2 linked regions of the Homo sapiens genome follow. The protein of the gene in region 1 interacts with the protein of each later gene in a pairwise test. Each region holds a gene or a part of one and is shown on either strand. Other genes may lie near its edges. The genes, in order: SEMA6A and SORBS1.

Region 1 (9,968 bases):
GCCCTTTGCACCGGGCTGGCGCACGGTACGCCCTCCTCCCAGATCAGCGCGGTCTCGCTCTGGAAAGATGACCCAGGAGGGGGAAGGGTGAGAGACCTGGCAGAAGATGGCCCTGGGTTTGAAACCCAGACTAGGGCTCTGTTCCGACTCCTCACTGTGTCCTAGGGCGCTACCATGGGGGCAATGGGGCGCTGGAGAGTAAGCCGGGCAGTGCCCACCCACCCTGCCTGATCCTTCTGGGGCGGGAAGTGTCTCTTGTCCCGATTCTCCGCGTTTTGCTCAGCTCCTCGCTGTGGGAGATGGTGCAAAACAGGATCCTGAGGTCTCCTCCCTCCTCGCAAGACCCGAGCGGCACGGGGGGAGCCAGGGAGCGGTCCCGGGCTTGTGGACGTCGGGAAAGGAAACAGAATTCCGCTGTTTTTCCCGCTCCCTCGCCGCCCCTCCGCCCAGCGCCTCCTCCCACTTTACAGCGGCGGGGTCACTAGACCAGGCGCTCCTGGAAAGTTTCCCTGAAAGCCAGGGGCGGCAGGCACGACCGGACTGGGGCTCAGCATGTGCAGTCTGAGGGAAGCCGGACCTGGAGGGAATCATGCGGACAGCTCGGGATGCAGCTAGGAGCTAGATCCCGGCCCTTTGGAGAGTGGAACCTCCTGGCCCGCGGTACTTGCTCGACAAGTCGGGGAAGGGATGAATGGGGAAGCAGGACCCCGGAGGCAGGTGCGGCCACTGTGGACAGAGGCTGTGGGGAAGGTGCGTGTGGACACAGGCCGGGGCTCAGTGGCTTGCAAGTAGGCAGCTTCAGGTGCAGAATCCCGAGCCATCTGCTCCCTGCGCACGATTTCCCAGCGTGGCTATCCAGGGAGGGAGGAAGCAGAGCCAGGTGTGCGTGGAGCGGGAGAGGAATGGGAGACTGGAGGCGCTGTCTTCACAGCCGGGGCAAGCACTTCCAGGGAGTCTCCGGCCTGTATCGCACTGGGGAGCCCTGCAGGCTTTTTCGCGTCGGTCTTTGGGAGAAAGGTGGCTGCTTTGGAACTGCGGTGGCCAGGCACAGCCACAGTGGGATCGCTCCTTTTTTTACGCTCAGCTTTTTTACGCTACTGAATGCGATCTGTGAAAGGTTTAAAACACAGGCGTGCATGGACACACACACGCACACACTCGCCCTTGTACGCACAACTTTCTTTACCTCAGATCTGAAAAGCCGTTTAACCCACTTGCAGTGTTGTGCCAGCAGGTCTCAGAAAAGCTATTTAATGCCCCCCAGCGCTGGTTTTTAAGTCTTGCCAGGATGGGAAGGTCGAGTGCCTTTGCCTTGTCTTTCTTTAGTCCTGAAATTGTTCGTCGTCCTTCCCCTGGTGGACACATCTTGGGCATCAAGTCTGTGGTATGCTACAGTGATGGCGGGGAGGACTGGTGGTTTAATTAATTATTTAATTATGTTTTCTCCCCAAAGTAAAGATGCCTATGTTTAATTCTGACTAAAAATACTCTACACTTTTTTATACCGTACCCAAATGGCTACCAGCGGTCAAGATTGCAAGAATTTTGTATGACTTTTTAATGCTGTGTTTAGTCTACATGGAGCAGTTTTATGATTTACAGTAAGCTTTGATTAAACTACTCCAGGCACCAAAGTTAATTATTAACCTAACCTTAAATACAGTGGCAGAACTATGTCTCCACCTATTAACCTAAACTATCTATTAAAAAATAATTGCACTAGCTATTTGAATTTGGTTTACCCATGCTTGTTTGTATGGTAACTTTTATTTGAATCTTGAGTAACCCTTACTCCCTGTTATTATTTTGGTTTTGGGACGTTCTTGAATGAGGCACTTTGCAAACCAGTTTAAAGCAGAAAAGAACGAACATCAAATTTAAAATCTTACTTTTGGTTATGAGTCATTTTTCAACTTGATGTAAAGAAGCATTCTACTTTATGTTTCTGATGTACAGTGTTTGTGGGTGACAACCTTCCCCATATGTTAGGTTTTGCAGCTATCACCTTTTAGAGATGTGCTACATTTTCAATAACGCATATAATCCACATATGTAAATGTTAAGCAGATACCGAAAATCATTTCTGAGGAGCCATCAGCTGAATATACTTATTGGACATAACAACTAAGCTTAAATAGGTAAAAATTTTATAAGAACCAGTATAGAACACTCAAGTAAATGTCGAATGAATGAAATAAATAGTCACACATGGTTCATGTTTGTCCACTTAAAGTGGACTTCTTTATTTTCCCTACAGTGAAAAAAAAAATATATGCCTTCAAGTGAGTGGTTATGATAAGGCGGCAATAAGTGCACCTTTTTATTTACACACAACACACACCCCTCAAGTTCTTCCAAAATCTAGTAAATGCTTTTTCCAACATTAAACACATATAGCAGTTGTATTTTGAGTAGGCGGGTAACATTGCACTAGTGAAGTCTAATGTGTTGAATCAGAAGTGTAGCAAGAATTAGGAAGACTGTTATCTTCACCAAATAAAAATGAGGCATCCAAATTAAGAACTTGTATTAAATTCAAAATAAGTAGTTATGCTTTAAAAGTAAATGGGTAGTTGCACTCCTATATGAAATGGAAGGAAAAATACTATTTTGAACCAGGAGTTAAGTCAGATAGTTTATTCTGTGTACATTGTGGTTCAGCGCTTTTCAGAACAGGACAAAAGAGTGATGATGGGATGAAAGTTTTTTTAGAACTAGATTGCCAAGAGCTAATATAGTCTCTCCATCTTATTTGTTTGCAGGAAGGAATCACAGAACAAGCTAAGCTAATTGCAAATGCTTTAATTAAGCATCTGCCATTTGTGTAAGGCAATGCCTAGGAAAGCCTATCTCTGCACTGCCCCTCTCCACACCCTTCTTTAGGTTTAGACAATTTTCTGTCCTCCTAGAGTAGAGGAGTGCTCCTTGACATATTTATATAGAAGCTTTGTGTTATGGCAGCCACATTTGTGCATGTTGAGGAAGGTGATGCCTTGAGGCGTTCTGCTGGGCCCTCCCATATCAGGAACCCCCCCCACTCTCTTGGGGTGCCTTGGAGCCAAGTTTTCTCTGAGATATTTCTATTTCAGCGTGAAGGCTTTTCTCATCTGCTTTAAAATGTGCTGCAAGAGCAACTGAGCTATTCTCTGCTGGCGACCACATGGTTGCCTCTTGGGGATATGGTAAGATAGAGAAAGGAGGGAGGCATTTAATCCCTTCGAAATGGGCAAATGAGATGTCATACCACACAAACCTCAAGGGGAGGAGTTCAGGACAACTTCTCACCATGGGACTACTGCATATAGTCTATACACAAGGGTATCTTGCTTTGTGAAACAGATGAGCTCTTGCAAAACTTTATTACAATAATTCCATTTACACCAATAGAGGGTATCATATAAAACCATAATACACAGATGATTCCCAAATAACCTCTTCAGCTTAGACCTCTCTCCTGGACCTCACAAATAACCAATGCTTAGTGGGTAGGTAGCTCCTCCTGAATAGACATCTCAAACTTAGGTTTAAAAAACCTAATTCTGTATCTTTCTCCCCCATATCTGCCTTTCTCATAGTCTTCTCCATCATAGTAAATGGCAACTCCATTCTTTGAGTTGCCGGCCCCCAAATTTAGTTCTCCTTGAAGCTTCTCTGTCACACCTACATCCATTGTGGCTGCAATGCTGTTGGCTCCACCTTTGGAATACCTGCAGGCTTCCTTCAGGTGTTCCTCCTCTGTGGCCCTCAAATTGGCCAAGCCATGGTCCTCTCCTGCTAGGTTTTCATGCCAGCTTCCCCACTAGCATTCCTGCCTCTGCCCATTTCTCAACACAGCAGCCAAAACACAGCAGTGATTTTTTTTTTAAACTAAACCAGATCAGATCACTACTTTGCTCAGATGTTTTCCCATCTTCTTCCAATAAAAGCCAAAGTCCTTCCTATGGCCTTTGCAGCCCCACATGATCTGCACTCAGGTTCCAACCTCTCTGACCTCCACCCCTTGGGCTTGCTTGAATCTGTCAAGCATGGCATATACTTGGGGTCCTTTGCAAGGACTTACTCTTTCATGCCTTGGGATGGTTCTTTCCCCAGATAGCTACATGATTTGCTTCTCATATTCTTCAGGTCTCTGTTCAAATGTCACTTTCTCAGTGAAGCCTTTTGATCCCCTTATTTACTTTACTCTTTCCCACAGCACTCCCCACCTCTTGGCAGTCCTTATTTTTTTCTTAGCATTTTTCACAGTCTGACAAACTATATGTTGTCCTTGTTGATTTTCTGTCTTCCACTAGAACATAATGCCATAAGGATAGACATTTTTAGGCTTTATTCACTCTGGCACCTAAAGCTGTGCCTGGCACATCATGGGCCATCCATAACAAGTGTTTGCTGAATGAATAAACAGTGAATCATTTTTGCAAACAACTAGTCTTTATTTTATCTATTTTGTCTGCCTTTGTTTTTCTATATCATGTTTTTATCAAATGAGATACTTCATGCATGCATGTGTGTGTGTGTACTTCATGCATGAATGTGTGTGTGTGTGTGTGTGTGTGTGTACAATCTTCCAAGCACATAGGTGGTATGGCTCATGCATCATTAGTGGAACATTCACTGTGTTGTTTTTCCAGTGGTAGTGATGGATTGGAGCCTGTTCATTCCCACATTCTCACCCAGTCCCCTCCTGTGTCCAAGAGCACACATCTGTGAGACACCTGGTTGTAGCTGGAGGGAGTCTGAGTTAGGTAAAATCAACTTGCCAAGAAACAGAGCTAAGAAGACAGCCAGCATTTGTGGGGATTGAGCTTTTGACCCTGGCCTCATTTGTTCTGCATTCTAACCACTGGCCATAGAACGTTCATGTTTTTTTGGAGTTTGCTAATAGTAGTTTTAAAATTCAACTTTCTATCAGGAGAATACAGCATACTTTATTAACCCATGTTTCTGCCCTGTACCCGTACAGTATATCTGCTGTTGAGGATCCTGCACTTGGAGACAAGAAGACCTGAGTTCCAGACTCTCACTACCTTGGACAAGTCACTTAACTTCTCTGTGGCTGCATTATTTTAATTGAAAATTATAAATAGTAAACCTATTCTTCCTAACTTATAGGATTACTGGGAAAATAATACGAAATCATGAATGTGAATGTATTTAGTGAAATATTACACGCATTGTGGAAATTTGGGAAGTTTGATGTTAACCCCCTCTTTCCCACTCTGGACCCTGGATATAACAGAGATCCTACTTCATCTTCTAAATTATTTTTGGTAGAATATACACTGTTCATGTAGTTTTAATGTAAATCACATTATGCAACTAAATAATATGTTCAAATTCATTGAAATTGTACAGTTCACCTAGAGCATGGATAGCAACTTTATTAATTAGAACACCTACCATGTCAAGGAAACATTGCTTTCAACATTATCATTAAATCAGGCAAGGTCATAGGAGTACCATTCTGCCAGGAATTAGTTTAAAAGTAAGATAATTGTTTTTGCTCAGTTAAATTCTGAAATAGTTCAAATCAGTGTAACGATTAATATGTCAGGGTGAACCAGGACTAGTAGAAGTTTCCATCTTTGTCATAACAAGGCCGAATTCGTTAGATCTTGTGGCGTGAGGTTAATAAATGTGAAGGGACCGTTGGAGGGAAGGTAGTGGACAACTCTAGAGGCATTGCGGAGGTCATGCTTTTTTGACAGACAATGCACGTGGATTTGTTTTGCCATTTACCAACAGTGTGACTTTATGCCAGTTTCCTTTCTCCTTCAGTTTTCATTTGCAAAGTGCTAGTATGATGATAATGTTATGGTTTTGAGAAGAATAAATGTGCTAACATCTGTAAAATGCATGTCACAATGCCGGGCACACAACAAGCAGTCATTCAACATAAGGTATTATTTTTACTTGAGTAACAGTAGTTACGAAAAATGTCCTAGGAATGGATTTTGAAAAAGCAGATAGTACTTTTATTCTGGGGGGCAGGGGAAATAGTAGAAAAGGAAATGGCTACGAATCTGTAATATAAAGAGATGATGCAAAAGAAAACAACCTTTGGACTAGAAACAAACATTCATACCATAAACAGGCCATAATGTCATGGGTTTTAAGTTGAGAAGCATGTGAATACATCACTTGCAGGGAAACAGGAAACAGGGAAACTTTGGAATTTGAAATATCACACCCAAAACATGGAAGGAAAAAACCACTATATATAAAAAATAATAATAATAACAAGCAGAGCCTTATATCAAATAGGAGCCCAAGGGATAGTTTTTGAAAAATGATAGCTATCACTTATTAACATTTTAATAATAAAATGTACACTCTGCACCTACATTTAGAATCTGAAAGCAACTCATAATGACAATTTTAGGGATGAGTTGAATTCCCAAGGACCACACCTGTCTTAGGAGAGAAACTCGGCTGCTGATTGGAACCCTTGAGGAGGTTGTGGCTAGGACTTCTGCAAGAGGGTCTTCAGGTTGGGCATGCATCTGCCAGGTCACTCTTCCCTGGCCAAGCTTGAAATCAATTTGGGAGCAAAAGCAAACTACTGCCTTCCACACCAAAGGTAGGAAATAATTGGCTGACCCCAGTAGAGATAGCAGTTATTCTGCTGACAGACACACTACTACAAAACCTGAAATTTGATTCAAATGATAGTCATACAAGTTCTTATCAGTGAGAAAAATCTGACTTCTAAAAGGCACAGCAGAAGGGGAAATAAATTGATGTTATCACCACAATTCCCTGCTACCATTATGTTTTCCAGGAATGCCTCCATGGCTTAGAGTTACAGTTATTTTCAACTAGGAAATAAAATGTTCTCAAACTCTGTAAGTGGAAACAGAATGGAAAGAGTGTGAGATAAATCAGTAATTAACATGCTGCAAGGACCGAAGTTTCAGATCCTTCTTAGCAGCCAGTATGGTGACTTTTGCTTAGAAAGCATTGTTAGTAATAGATACTTCCTCATGCAGCCTTTAGACTTGAAGCTTTCTTTTAATATTCCTAGGTGCTTTCTAGGAATTTCCAACTAACCTATAATTGTCATCTGTAGAACATTAAATTCAAAGAATCCATGCCAATTAAAAAAATTTAGCAGAAGAAGCTCTAAAGTTGGTGCTGTTTACGCCTTTCTTAGCCCTTCTGCCCCTCTACGCTTCAAAGACCAGCCTTTGGCCATGATTTGATTAGAAGCATTTATAGAACAGAACAGGATCTGGCATTAAATACAATGAAAACATGCCATTGGAAAATAAACATTGTTAGAGACTACGAAGAAATAAAGATTGTATTAATTATGTTTTAATGTTCTATGAGGGTTTTACAGACAAGCTGTGATAGATCCATTCTTCTTTCCCTGTTCCTATTCCTGATTCGTTTTTTAAAGAAAAGTATTCAGTCTTTTCATTAATATTGCAGCGACTTCAGCACTTCCCCGCCCCTCCCCCAGACTCCTACTGTCCTTGAATGAGGAAACTGAGAGAATACTGATTGAGCTGGTGAATGGAAACGTTCCTTTCCTGAAAATGGAATGCTTTACAAAAAATTGCATTCCACAAAAAAACACTCAAAACAATTCAACAACTGTCCCTCCTCCTTTCTACCCAGAGAGCCACTTGATTTCATTCACATATTTTGGTTTTTCAATGTATTTGTTCTTAGGCCTAAAATACCCAGGTGGAAAACCATTCTATTAAGCCTTTCACTATTTTAAAAACATGAGCATCTGAGTTTCTAAGAACATTCTCATTCCTGCATAGTGAGCGATAAATAGAAACCAAATTGTTTGTAGCATTCTAAACTCAAGTATATTGGCAGAATGGCAGTGGAGTTGATTTTTATAAGAATACTTGTTAATGGTTTTCGAGACGGATTCTGTGCTAATTCTTCTTGTATCATGAATGATGGCCCTAGCTAGACACTGTCGCTGGGATCTTCATCTGTTAATCATGGAGGCTGCTTTCTTATTCGGTTGCCATAGTTTCAGTGCCTCACATAGTGTTGGGGTGTCTTGGGAAAGGTTTGAGATATACTAGGGCTTGCAAGCCTTGCAGTTATTTTGACAGTTGTGCTCTGAAAGACTGAAAACCGCTTCTCGTATAATTCAGTGTTGGATTAAAAGAGGCAACTTCTGAGAGTGTCTCCCTGGACCTTGTTATGTGCACATCCAGCTGGTATTTAATCCAGGATTTGCCTCTTGCTCAGTCTTGCTGGCAAAAAAAATAAATAAATAAAAATACAGTACAGAGGCTGATGTCACTTTCATATTTCAACAAGAAAGCAAAGGGACGCAAACTCTTCATTAAGACTATTCACAAATGTGGAGGTAAATGAGGCCATTCATGACTTTGCTTAAAATTTCTGCTCCATAATTTGGCTTTGGCTTTGCAGATTACTAAATAAATAAAATGACATCATGATTGCTGTGTGCCGTGTGTTATTTTGGCAATGGAAACATGTAGAGCTTTACTTCAGGTTTAACCTTTCCTTTTTTACACTTGACACTCATTGCTAAGGAGCTAGAGACCATTTTACTGTATTTTGCAACAAAAGGCTCATACATTTTGGACTGTAGGTCTACTGCTTTGTCAACTCGTGAATAGTATATGAACATTTTTCAATTATTTAATAATTTCAATATTTTGCTATTTTTTTTTAGGTTTGTGACTTTAGAGTTGATTAGAGAATGTTCTCCAGTGGTGTATATATTGTGTGACTTGGTCAAGAAAGGATTTGGGGAGTAAATTGCTGTAAGAGGGTGATACACATACACACATTCTGGCGATTTATGTGCTTCACGTGTGATGCAGAACACAGCTTGCTTCTGGTTGGCAAATTTGGCCTTGTGCAACGGATAGTGGTACACTTCATGTTTCAGTTTCCATTTCTCAAGTGGACTTTCAAGGACTCCTACCAGTCTAAGCCAAGCAATTTAATTCCTTTGTAGATTAAAACATAAAATAATCTCACACTGGAAGCAAACAGTGTTGAATTCAAGACATGCAAAGCATAAGTGAAAATCTAGGCTGATTTAGAAGAAGAAACTTTGAATTCCTTACAAATGGGACTAATCTAGAAAATCAGTCATTTTTTTCCTTTTTACTAGAAAATGACTAGTTTTTATTTCAGAATGAGCTTCAAGGCAGCGTTTTAAATTTCTCCAGATCCAGCCTGCCAACATTTTTGTGTAAGATCAACAAGCATTTTTAATGCACGTGCCTATTTTGTTGACCCATCCGTTACCCAACCACATTAAAGGATTGATTTTAGAGGCCAATAATGTGAAGTAAATTAAAAGGATAACATGGCCTTAATTGCTACTGGTTTCACCGGGCTTCTAGGCACCGGAATTTCTTGTGGAGAAACACTTTAAGTGTCACAGCAGTTTTTGATCATGTGGTCTGGCTCACCCAGAGGCTTCAATTATCTCCCAGCCCTTCTCCACCTCCCCTCAGATATCTCTGAGAAGCAAAGAAAATGTGCATTTGTAAATTCAGTATTATGGACCCCTGATTATTTGGCAGGGTAAGAAAATAGGTTCTGTTCATTTTACAGTATTCGCATAGGCTAGATGTTTAAACAACAACAAAAGACATGGAATGGAGGAGAACAGTGGGAGTAAGATCAAAGCTTTTTTCATTAAAAAGAATTTTGTTGAATTGAGTTCATTCTCTCAAATGATAACAAGATTGTGATTACTCTTGGGTGTCGGGTTAGACACAACATTGCACACGTAGCTTAAGAAAAGTAAAAAGTACTTTTTGTGTAGATGTCAGTCAAATACAATGTGGACTTTAATTAACCTTAATTAATGATTTCTGATTACAGATTTTCTTTTGTGTGCCTTGGAGGCTGTATTTAGGTAGAGTATTTTCAGCCAGTAGTGACATGAACTTGCTTCCTTTGTCTTGCCATGCAAACCACACTAGATTCTCATTACAAGGAAAAATGTG
Region 2 (9,968 bases), on another chromosome or scaffold:
GCAACACTCTGTAACACTGTCTCCCTCCCAGTGCGTCTTATCCTCCACTGCATGGGGAGAATAGGCAGGATCTGCTGCCTATTATTATGTCTATCTCAGAATAAGCGACGGATTTATTTTTGCAACACTGTATGTTTGGGTGTCTTGAAATCTGATGACTAAATGTACGCATATCATCCTAGGAACGGGCTTTCAATCATTTAACAAACACTTCTTGAGAATATACTCTATATCAGGCACAAATTTAAGTGTGTGAATGAAGAAATGAAACAAACTTTTGGTCAAATCAGAGAGCTGAACACCCATGTTTATCTCTGCTCTCTTCTGGACTCCCACTAAAAGGACAGTAGACGGATGCATTTCTTAATGAAAAAAGAGACCCCAGCAGATGAGATATGTCAACAGCAGTGGAGAGCTGACCACCATGCAGTAGCTGATTTAGGTTTCCGCATTGTCTGCTCTGCTAAGTGCAAGCAGAGCAGGAGCCACTAAACAAGTGCCCAACTCATGGCACAGAACACAAAGACAGTTCAGGAAGTGGAGGCACCAAGGACTCTAAAGGGAAAAGCAGGGTAAAGCTAAAAAGAAGGGTGCCTGCCTGCAAGTTGGTACAAAGAGCAGTCAGACCCAGGGTCCCTCTTGCAGTCTGCTCAGCCTGGTGATTTCCCTGCCTCAGCTAGCAGAAGGTGGAGATCCACTGATCAGGTAACTTACACCAGAGATACAGCCAAGGGAGGGACACAGCTGAGGGAGGTAGAGAGATGGGAGAGAGGGATGGCAGGTGGGGGCAACTTTCAAAAGACCCAGGGATTGAGTGAAAGTCTGCATATCAAACAGACTAATACCTAGCCCCTTTCCCCATGGAGGCTCCCAGAATGCAGGAAGGCCAGGCTGTTTACCACCCCACCCCACCCTACCCCACACCCAGGTAAAATCCTCTCCAAGAAAGCCCTATCCAGGAAAGCCCCAGGAAAAAGATCTACCGGCGCTGATATCTAGGCTGCTCCAGTAGAGAAAAAGGGGGCTCTCTGCTGGGTCACTCTACAATGAAGTTAACGACTCCCTTCCTTGTGGCACTGATGCCCAATCAGCATTTCGGTGTCCATTCTTAAAATATACATAGACAGTCAAGGATCAGCATGCATGGAAGGATAGCTGCAATGGAAGATACAGTAACCAAAACAAATGGAAAAAGGGACTTGGAAGAAACAACATCTTCCAAGGGACAGCAGGGAACAGCAGAAAACCATAAAAAAAACAAAAACAAACAAACAAAACCCTTAATATAAAGGAATTTACTGTACCCATGAAACAAGAATAGAATGTCATCTAAAAAAGAAAAGCAAGTATTCAGAGAACTAGGGAGCTCTTACAAAGTAAAACATGCAAATATGTTCCACGTAAACACATGAAAGCACAGTTAAAAATGGAAAAGAGTTGAAGATAAAGCTGAAGATAGCTCTCTGAAAGACAAAAATATAATAAAATGAAAAAAGGAAATAAAATGTTTTAAAATTATAAACTTGCTCCAGGAAGTCCAACATTCAGCTAATAGGCATGCCAAAGACAAAACACAGAAAATGGAGAAAATGAAATTATTAAAATATATCTAATTAAGAAAATTTCCCCAAACTGAAAGACGTCAATCTTCAGATCAAAAAGGCACACACCGGCTGGACGCAGTGGCTCACACCCGTAATCCCAGCATTTTGGGAGCCCGTGGCGGGTGGATCACCTGAGGTCTGGAATTTGAGACCAGCCTGGCCAACGTGGTGAAACCCCCATCTCTACTAACAATGCAAAAATTAGCTGGGCGTGGTGGCATGCGCCTGTAATCCCAGATACTTGGGAGGCTAAGGCACGAGAATCGCTTGAACCCGGGAGGCGGAGGTTGCAGTGAGCCGAGATTGCACCACTGCACTCCAGCCTGGGCAACAGAGTGAGACTCCATCTCAAAAAAAAAAAAAAAAAAGGCCCACACCAAAGACCCAGGCCAATCATTTTTAAAGCAAGGAGATTTCAAATACAGGAAAAGAGAGAAGATCCCAAAAACTTTCAGTGAGAAATCAGGTTATCCATAAATGATCAAGAATCAGAATGGTATCCGAATTTTGATACCAATATTAGAACCTAGATGACAGTGGAATGATGGCTTCAAAATTCTAAGGGAAATGGCTTTCGACTTCAAATTCTAGATGAATCAAATCACCAATCGAATATGAATGTAGAATATGAACATTTTCAGACCTGTAAGCTTAAAGTGATCAACTTCCACAGACCCTCTCTCAGAAACTTGTGGAAGAATAAATCAACAAAGGAAACAGGATCCCACCCAGGATAAGGTGAGGGAATTCCCAGGATGAGTCATGCCACAGGCCTAGAGGTCAATGGGCAAGAACAAAGGAGACAGAATGGAGGCCTATAGGAGGGAAGTCTCCAAGCGGGCGTAAAAAAAAAAAAACAGTAATAAAATAAAAAGGAACAAGCGCAGGCACGGTGGCTCATGCCTGTAATCCTAGCACTTTGAGAAGTTGAGGAGGGAGGATTGTTTGAGGGCAGGAGTTAGAGACCAGCCTAGGCAATGTAGTGAAACCCCATCTCTACCAAAAAACTTTAAAAATTAGCTGGACATGGTGGTGCCTGTAGTCCTAGCTACTCAGGAGGCTGAGGCAGGAGGATCACTTGAGCCCAGGAGGTCAAGGCTGCAATGAGCTACAATCGCACCTCTGCACTCTAGCCTGGTGGACAGAGCAAGGCCCTATCTCAATAAATAAATAAATAAATAGGAACACATGTTATAAAACAAATGTCTTAAGATGCTGTCAAATACTTTGAGAATTAGCAATAAGTACATAGAAACTAAGTAAATAGAAAATGTAAGATAATTATTAACTCAAAAAATGTACAAGAAAGAAAATATTATAGTATACTATATGGCTCTGTCATGAACACTATTTACACAGCCAAAATAATGTAAGCACCAAATATCAATGTAATCAAAAACTGTGATATATCTATAATGAGAGGATAGGGAGAAAGGGAAGTATTGGGGGGCAGAGGAGAGGATCTAATCCATAGTAAGACATCAAGACATAACATCTAAAAGTAACCTCTAAGCTGGGCATGGTGACTCACACCTGTAATCCCAGAACTTTAGGAGGCCCAGGTAGGAGGAGTGCTTCAGGCCAGGAGTTAAAGTCCACCCTGGCCTCAAGCAGGGTCTCAACATAGCAAGACCCTGTCTCTACAAAAAGAAAAATAAGGAAAAATAAAAATAACATCTAAAATGGACAATCAGAAAACAGCATTGTAAGCAGGTAACAATAAATATGATAGTAATATCAGGAGAAACAGCTCAGTGCATTAGAAGTAACTGTTGTAAACAGAGTAACAGCAGCCCCTCAAGGATGTCTATATCCTAACTGCCATGCCTGGCTAATTCTTTGTATTTTTTGCAGAGATAAGGTTTTACTATGTTGGCCAGGCTGATCTTGAACTCCTGGCCTTAAGTGATCCGCCGGCCTCAGCCTCCCAAACTGCTACGATTACAGGAATGAGCCACTGCGCCCAGGCAGCCTTTATATTTTTCTAGTAGTATTGACTTTTTTTTTTTTTTTTTTTTGAGAGGGAGTCTGGCTCTGTTGCCCAGGCTGGAGTGCAGTGGCACAATCTCAGCTCGCTGCAACTTCCGCCTCCCTGGTTCAAGTGATTCTCCTGCCTCAGCCTCCAGATTAACTGGGATTACAGGCGCCCGCCACCGTGACTGGCTAATTTTTGTATTTTTTTAGTAGAGATGGGATTTTGCCATGTTGGCCAGGCTGGTCTCAAACTCCTGACCTCAGGTGATCCGCCCACCTCAGCCTCCCAAAGTGCTGGGATTACAGGCGTGAGCCACCACACCCAGCCTATTTGTCTTTCAAAACTCTGTGCGGGGTGGGGGTGCACAGTGGCTCAGGCCTGTAATCCCAGCACTTAGGGAGGCCAAGACAGGCAGATCACTTGAGGTCAGGAGTTCGAGACCAGCCTGGCCAACACTGTGAAACCCTGTCTCTACTAATAATAAAAAAATTAGCTGGGGGGGTGGTGGTCTCCTGTAGTCCCAGATACTAGGGAGGCTGAGGCAGGAGAATCGCTTGAACCCGGGAGGTAGAGGTTGCAGTGAGCTGAGATCATGCCACTGCACTCCAGCCTAAGCAACAGAGGGAGACTCTGTCTCAAAACAAACAAAAAAGAAACTCTCTGTGTACACACACACACACACACACACACACGCGAAAGTTTTATACAAATTAAAATTTAATTTAAAAAGAGAAGAAACACAGACTCACTCTATTCCCAGAACTCACAATATGGGGGAGGAAACAGACAAGGGAACCAGCAATATCAACAGAAGTAGAAAGCTGAACACAAGAAGAAAGGCATCTCTTTTTTTGTTTGTTTTTTTTTTTTTTGAGATGGAGTTTCGCTCTTGTTACCCAGGCTGGAGTGCAATGGCGTGATCTCGGCTCACTGCAACCTCTACCTTCCGGGTTCAAGTGACTCTCCTGCCTAAGCCTCCTGAGTAGCTGGGACTACAGGCATGCGCCACCACGCCCGGCTAATTTTTTGTACTTTTAGTAGAGAGGAGGTTTCACCATGTTGGCCAGGCTGGTCGCGAACTCCTGACCTCAGGTGATCCACCTGCCTCGGCCTCCCAAAGTGCTGGGATTACAGCTACCGCGCCCAGCTGAAAGGCATCTCTTTAAGATGTGAGGGGAGTCTGAGGGGAGAAGGCATCAGCCAGGAAACGCAGAAAAAGGCCTTCTGGTGAGGGAACCAGTCCTGGTGGGGGGTGCAGGGGGGCCTGGCCTTTGGGGACGTGGAGTAGGGAATGACCGGGCATCTGGTGGTTTGGCAGAGCCAGCAGGAAAGCATGGAGGGGTGGTTCTCAGCACCAGCAGGTTTGATGCCTACCCTATCCCCGGCTTCTCCAGTTGGGGTATGAGACTGATATGCATATTTACAGAGGGCTGGTACAAATGAGGGCCCACAATAAACACATTTTCGTAGAACGTCAATTGTATTCAACAGTAAAGCAACTTAAATACTTTTATACTAAAACCAGTACACATATATTACAGAGAATACAAACCTAATGTGACAAGGTGACTTCTTGTTTGCAAGGCCCACTTTAGATACTAAAGTACTTGCTGACCACTGAGCATCAAGAGTCAATCCTCTCTGTAACTAATTAGAGTCAGAAGAAAATCATAAAGCGGTACAGCATCCATCCATCAAAGAATCCGGGAACTTTACACCAGCAACTGTCGGTGGGTGCCCACCCTCCCAAGGTGGGCAGAAGACATACCTTGGGTCCCACTCAACACTAATCAGAAAGTTAACAAGCATCTCATTCTTTTCCAAAAGGGTCTGGGTCCTGCTACAGCCAGTTAGGTTAGCTCAGCCTGAGGAAACAGAGAAAACAACGATGCTAATTCTTCCTAGATATACTCTCTAGGCCATAGCCCGCCAGCCCCTATTCTAAGCAGTACCGCAGTCACTGAGAAGAGCCCCACCTCCACTATCAGCACCCCTAACCCCTTACAGTACAGGCCTCTGTTACAGAATGCATTAAAGACACTTTTTCCATGGAAGGAAGTCTAGAAACAGGGTACATCCCTTGAGAGAGGGTGTCCCTTGTGGTCCACAATACAAGGGTGGAAACTTTTTTCTATTGTTGTGAAAACAATAACCGCATGACAGAGACCTGGGAACTTTTTTTTCTATAAAAAGCCACTGCTGACCACAGAAGAAGTGGGGGGATAAATCAATGGAAGGCCACACAGAAGTAAAAAGCAATTTAGTTGGATTTGGTTCATTTGCCTCTTTTTTGTTTTGTGTGTAAAACACATACACATTCAAAAAAGACTGAATTCAACTGATTTTATTTATTTATTTATTTGGATGGAGTCTCACTCTGTCCCCCAGGCTGGAGTGCAGTGGTACAATCTCGGCTCACTGCAACCTCCACCTCCCAGGCTCAAGCAATTCTTTCTGCCTCAGCCTCCTGAGTAGCTGGGATTACAGGCACCCATCACCACACCCAGCTAATTTTTGTCTTTTTTTTTTTTTTTTTTTTTTGAGACGGAGTCTTGCTATGTCGCCCAGGCTGGGGTGCAGTGGCGCGATCTTGGCTCACTGCAAGCTCCGCCTCCCAGGTTCATGCCATTCTCCTGCCTCAGCTTCCCGAGTAGCTGGGACTACAGGTGCCTGCCACCACACCCGGCTAAATTTTTGTATTTTTAGTAGAGACGGGGTTTCACCATGTTGACCAGGCTGGTCTTGAACTCCTGACGTCAGGTGATCCACCTGCTTCAGCCTCCCAAAGTGCTCGGATAACAGGCATGAGCTACCTTGCCTGGCCCTCGACTGATTTGAAATGAAGAACAGAGAACATGAAATTTTAATGGCAATAGATTAAAAGAAACTACAAAGATATATTGTTGATAATAAAGAAAGAATGAGGGAGGAGGGCAAGGAGAAAGAGGTAAGAAAAAGAAATGGATAGTGGAGGGAGATGTAGCAAAAGAAGAATGGGAGACAGCAAGATTCAGGGACGGGTCCACATGCCTAACCGCACACAAAAAGGGGGAGCCACCAAAGGACCCACAGAGACACTTTCTAGGGCTTGAAGAGTTAGCCAAAGTCAGTTACATTGTTCATGGCCAGCTGTTGGCTGTAGCTCCAGACCTTGAACTATTATCACCTTTTATCCTTGCCTTTGAATGGTTAGTGCTCTGGTCAACCACTGTTCACAGCTCTTTAATTGCTCATTGAAACATTCTGAGGCTTAGCTTAGGTCACAAGCCAGAAGCTCCCCCAAATGAGCTACAATTCAGTAAATCATTCATCTCCAAGTATCTCCTCTGAAAAGGGAGTATTCGAAACACTATCTCATAAAACATTCAAAGCACCGATGAAAATCCAAGGAGAAAATGCTGCTTGCACTGAAACGAAATCCATGGAAAAGTGTTCTGAGTTTTGCATTTACAAAAAAACCGGGACTTCAGCAGAACTGAGTCCCACCTCAGCATCAGCCAGCATCACCACCCGCACACCTGACTTCCCACATGTCCACATTCTGCATGCTCCCGTGGATCTAAAGGCCTCAGTTGGTCCTGAAACTAAGCAGCCTCCATGACACTTTGCAATCTGAGGGTCAACAGGAGCAATCCCAAGGAGATTCCAAGACAGTCTCAGGCTGAGGTTGAACTCTCAGTCCACCCCCCCACCCCCCATCCTAGGCTACCAAACCTCCCCTCACTTCACCCCAAGGGCTGCAGAAGAGCTCAGCTGTTTCAGAGACAATAGAGCCTCCCCCTTTCAAGCTCCATCCTTTTCTCCTCCAAGCTTGGTTTCTGTGTTTTTCCCTTCCCCACATAATCTGTCCCCAGCCTCCTACTTTCTCGTCTGTTTCTCCAATCTCTCTCTTCTTGTGCTCCTATTTCCTCCTCATGTTTCGCTATTCCATCTTAGAATCATTTCTCTCAGAGGAAGAGGGGGCTTAACAGATACATATAGGCCGGGCACCGTGGCTCAAGCCTATAACCCCAGCATGCTGGAAGGCCAATGCAGGCGGATCGCTTGAGTCCAGGAGTTTGAGACCAGCCTGGGCAACACCGCAAAACTCTGTCTCTACAAAAAGTACAAAAATTAGCTGGGTGTGGTAGTGCGTGCCTGTGGTCCCAGCTACTCGGGAGGCTGAGGTAGGAGGACTGCCTGGGCCCAGGAGGTCGAGGCTGCAGTGAGCCATGATTGTGCCACTGCACTCCAGCCTGGGTGACAGGTGAGACCCTGTCTCAAAACAACCACCACCACCAAAAAACAAAAAAACCCAGATACATCTGGAAACAAGATCTACAATCTATCCCCCCGAGTTCCCACCCCAGCTCCACATCTTGCTAGCTGTGCAACCTTGGAAAAATGGCCAAACCTCCCAACCCCTCAAATTCCTCAGTTTGGCGGGGAAGGGGGAGGAACATGGCAATCACAGAGGTCTTTTATAACTCTCATCTTCTAGATAGGTAAACGTTCACCTGTGTAACCATGAATAAACCAGCAAGTTAAACATCCACAGGGAAAGAGAACAAATTACAGAAACTCCCTTTCCTCAGCAATCTATCATCCCACCCTCATCTCCCACAACCACTCACTCTGGGGTCTGTGCCTCTCACTCTGGACCGTTCTAGCTCTGAATTGTTTACATACTTACAGTAAAACCTCACAAATCACACTAATCAAGGAAAAGGTAGATGTGAATCCAACAGAAGCCTGCATCCTAGAATGCTTCTTCTATGCCATTGTGCAATACTTTGAATTTATTATCAATTTAGCAAACAGGAAAGAACCTGAAAATGCCATCACAAACTGTGACTCTAAGAACAGTGGAGTTGTCAGGAACCCTGGAAGACCTTCTGCCCTATCATCCTCCACTTCACCAGCAAGGACACAGGCCCAGAGAGCAGAAGCCACTAGCCCAAAGCCCAAAGATTGGTGGCCAGGACCAAAGCTAGCTGTCCTGCCTCTGGTCCAGAGCTTCTCCACCAAAGCTTTTTGAGACCATCCATGCCTTTCTCCTAGAGACAGGTCAAATCCTAAATTACCATAGAGTGCCCTCTACAGCAAATCTATCTCCACATCCAGGGAAGGGTCTGGAGATAAGTTAGGATGACCTGATCATTATCAATGCTGCACAATAAAAACTTTCTTTCCTGGCCCTGCCCTTTCATTGTTTACAAAGAAAACCCTAGACTCTGCTATCTGTATTGAACTCTTATTTTAGAGAAGGGGAAAGAGAGGAACAGCTGAACAGTGCTTTGTTCTGCCAGGAAGAATTTGCTCATCCTTTCCCATAACTCCTACCCACTCCCCAATATGCCCAATCTCTTCCGAAAAGTATACAGAAACTCTCCAACTACAACAAATGAAAGCAGGTAGGAGAAGGAAAAGGCCAACAAGGCGGGTATCGTCCACAAGATGACAATACCCTCCCAACTCTTTACCCCACAGGGTAGACAGCAGTTCATTTCAGTTGCTAATTCCCTGCAGGGAAGTCGCCAAAGGAGTGGTCTCAGGGCCCTCCAGCTGAGAAATGTGCTCTCTGCAACCCCTGGAGAACTAACCCTTTCCTAACCATCTGCTCCAACAGTGCCTTGGGCAAAGGTGCCAACAGACCAACCCTTCCCTTCTTTCCCCTCAGGCCAAGAAAGAGACATCAGAGCTTGGTTGGCAAGGGGCTATTTAAGGCAGCATCCAGAGGGCGGGGCAGAAAACTGCTGGAGGCATCCTCCTCCTCCACCCCTCCCCCTCACAGCCCAAACACACGCCCCTCACTCTGTAGACAGCCATCTGCCTCATCGGTGTCTGAAGGCTGTAGATATGTCCATCATCTGTCTTCTGTCATTGATGCTGCTGACCCCTCTGTGTCCACCCCACTTTTAATCCAACCCTCCTCTCTTCGATCACCACCAAGATACCTTTCCAACCAAAACCACAGAATTGAATCTAAGCAGAGGAGCTCAAAACACAAGGAGAGTGAAGACAGCCAATCCATCCCCCGCCTCCACTTAAGAGGAAAAAAGGGCGCGGGGGGCTGGGCGGGGGGGGGGGTGTTGAGGGGAGAGATGGAGTCAGAGGCCTGACACGCCAGATAGGTTCCATGATGTCTCTAGATGAACCTCCCTCCTATTGACGATGAAACCAATTCCAGCAATTTCAGCAGGTCGGCCCTGTGACAACAGGGGCATCCCAACGCTCAGTGTTTAAAACAAAAATCCAAAGGCTCGCCCAGAACATGCTGGGAAAAACCGAGGACTGAACAAAACGAGCCATGCTCAGTGGGATCCCTTCTGCTTTTACGTAGCAATGTAATAGCGTAATAAATTCTTGTCTGCCTGGAGAAAGCATGCACTGGTGAATTTCAAAGCCAT

The links.
Region 2: the proteins of SEMA6A (region 1) and SORBS1 interact in a two-hybrid assay, tested with the Homo sapiens proteins (one study listed by BioGRID and IntAct).

Annotation. Positions count from the first base shown.
Region 1 is NC_000005.10:116,563,413-116,573,380, reverse strand, and holds part of SEMA6A (semaphorin-6A isoform 2 precursor), read left to right. Parts: intron 1-40; exon of another isoform or gene 41-660; intron 661-9,968. UniProt on the Homo sapiens protein: Cell surface receptor for PLXNA2 that plays an important role in cell-cell signaling. Required for normal granule cell migration in the developing cerebellum.
Region 2 is NC_000010.11:95,550,448-95,560,415, forward strand, and holds part of SORBS1 (sorbin and SH3 domain-containing protein 1), read right to left. Parts: intron 1-9,968. UniProt on the Homo sapiens protein: Plays a role in tyrosine phosphorylation of CBL by linking CBL to the insulin receptor. Required for insulin-stimulated glucose transport. Involved in formation of actin stress fibers and focal adhesions.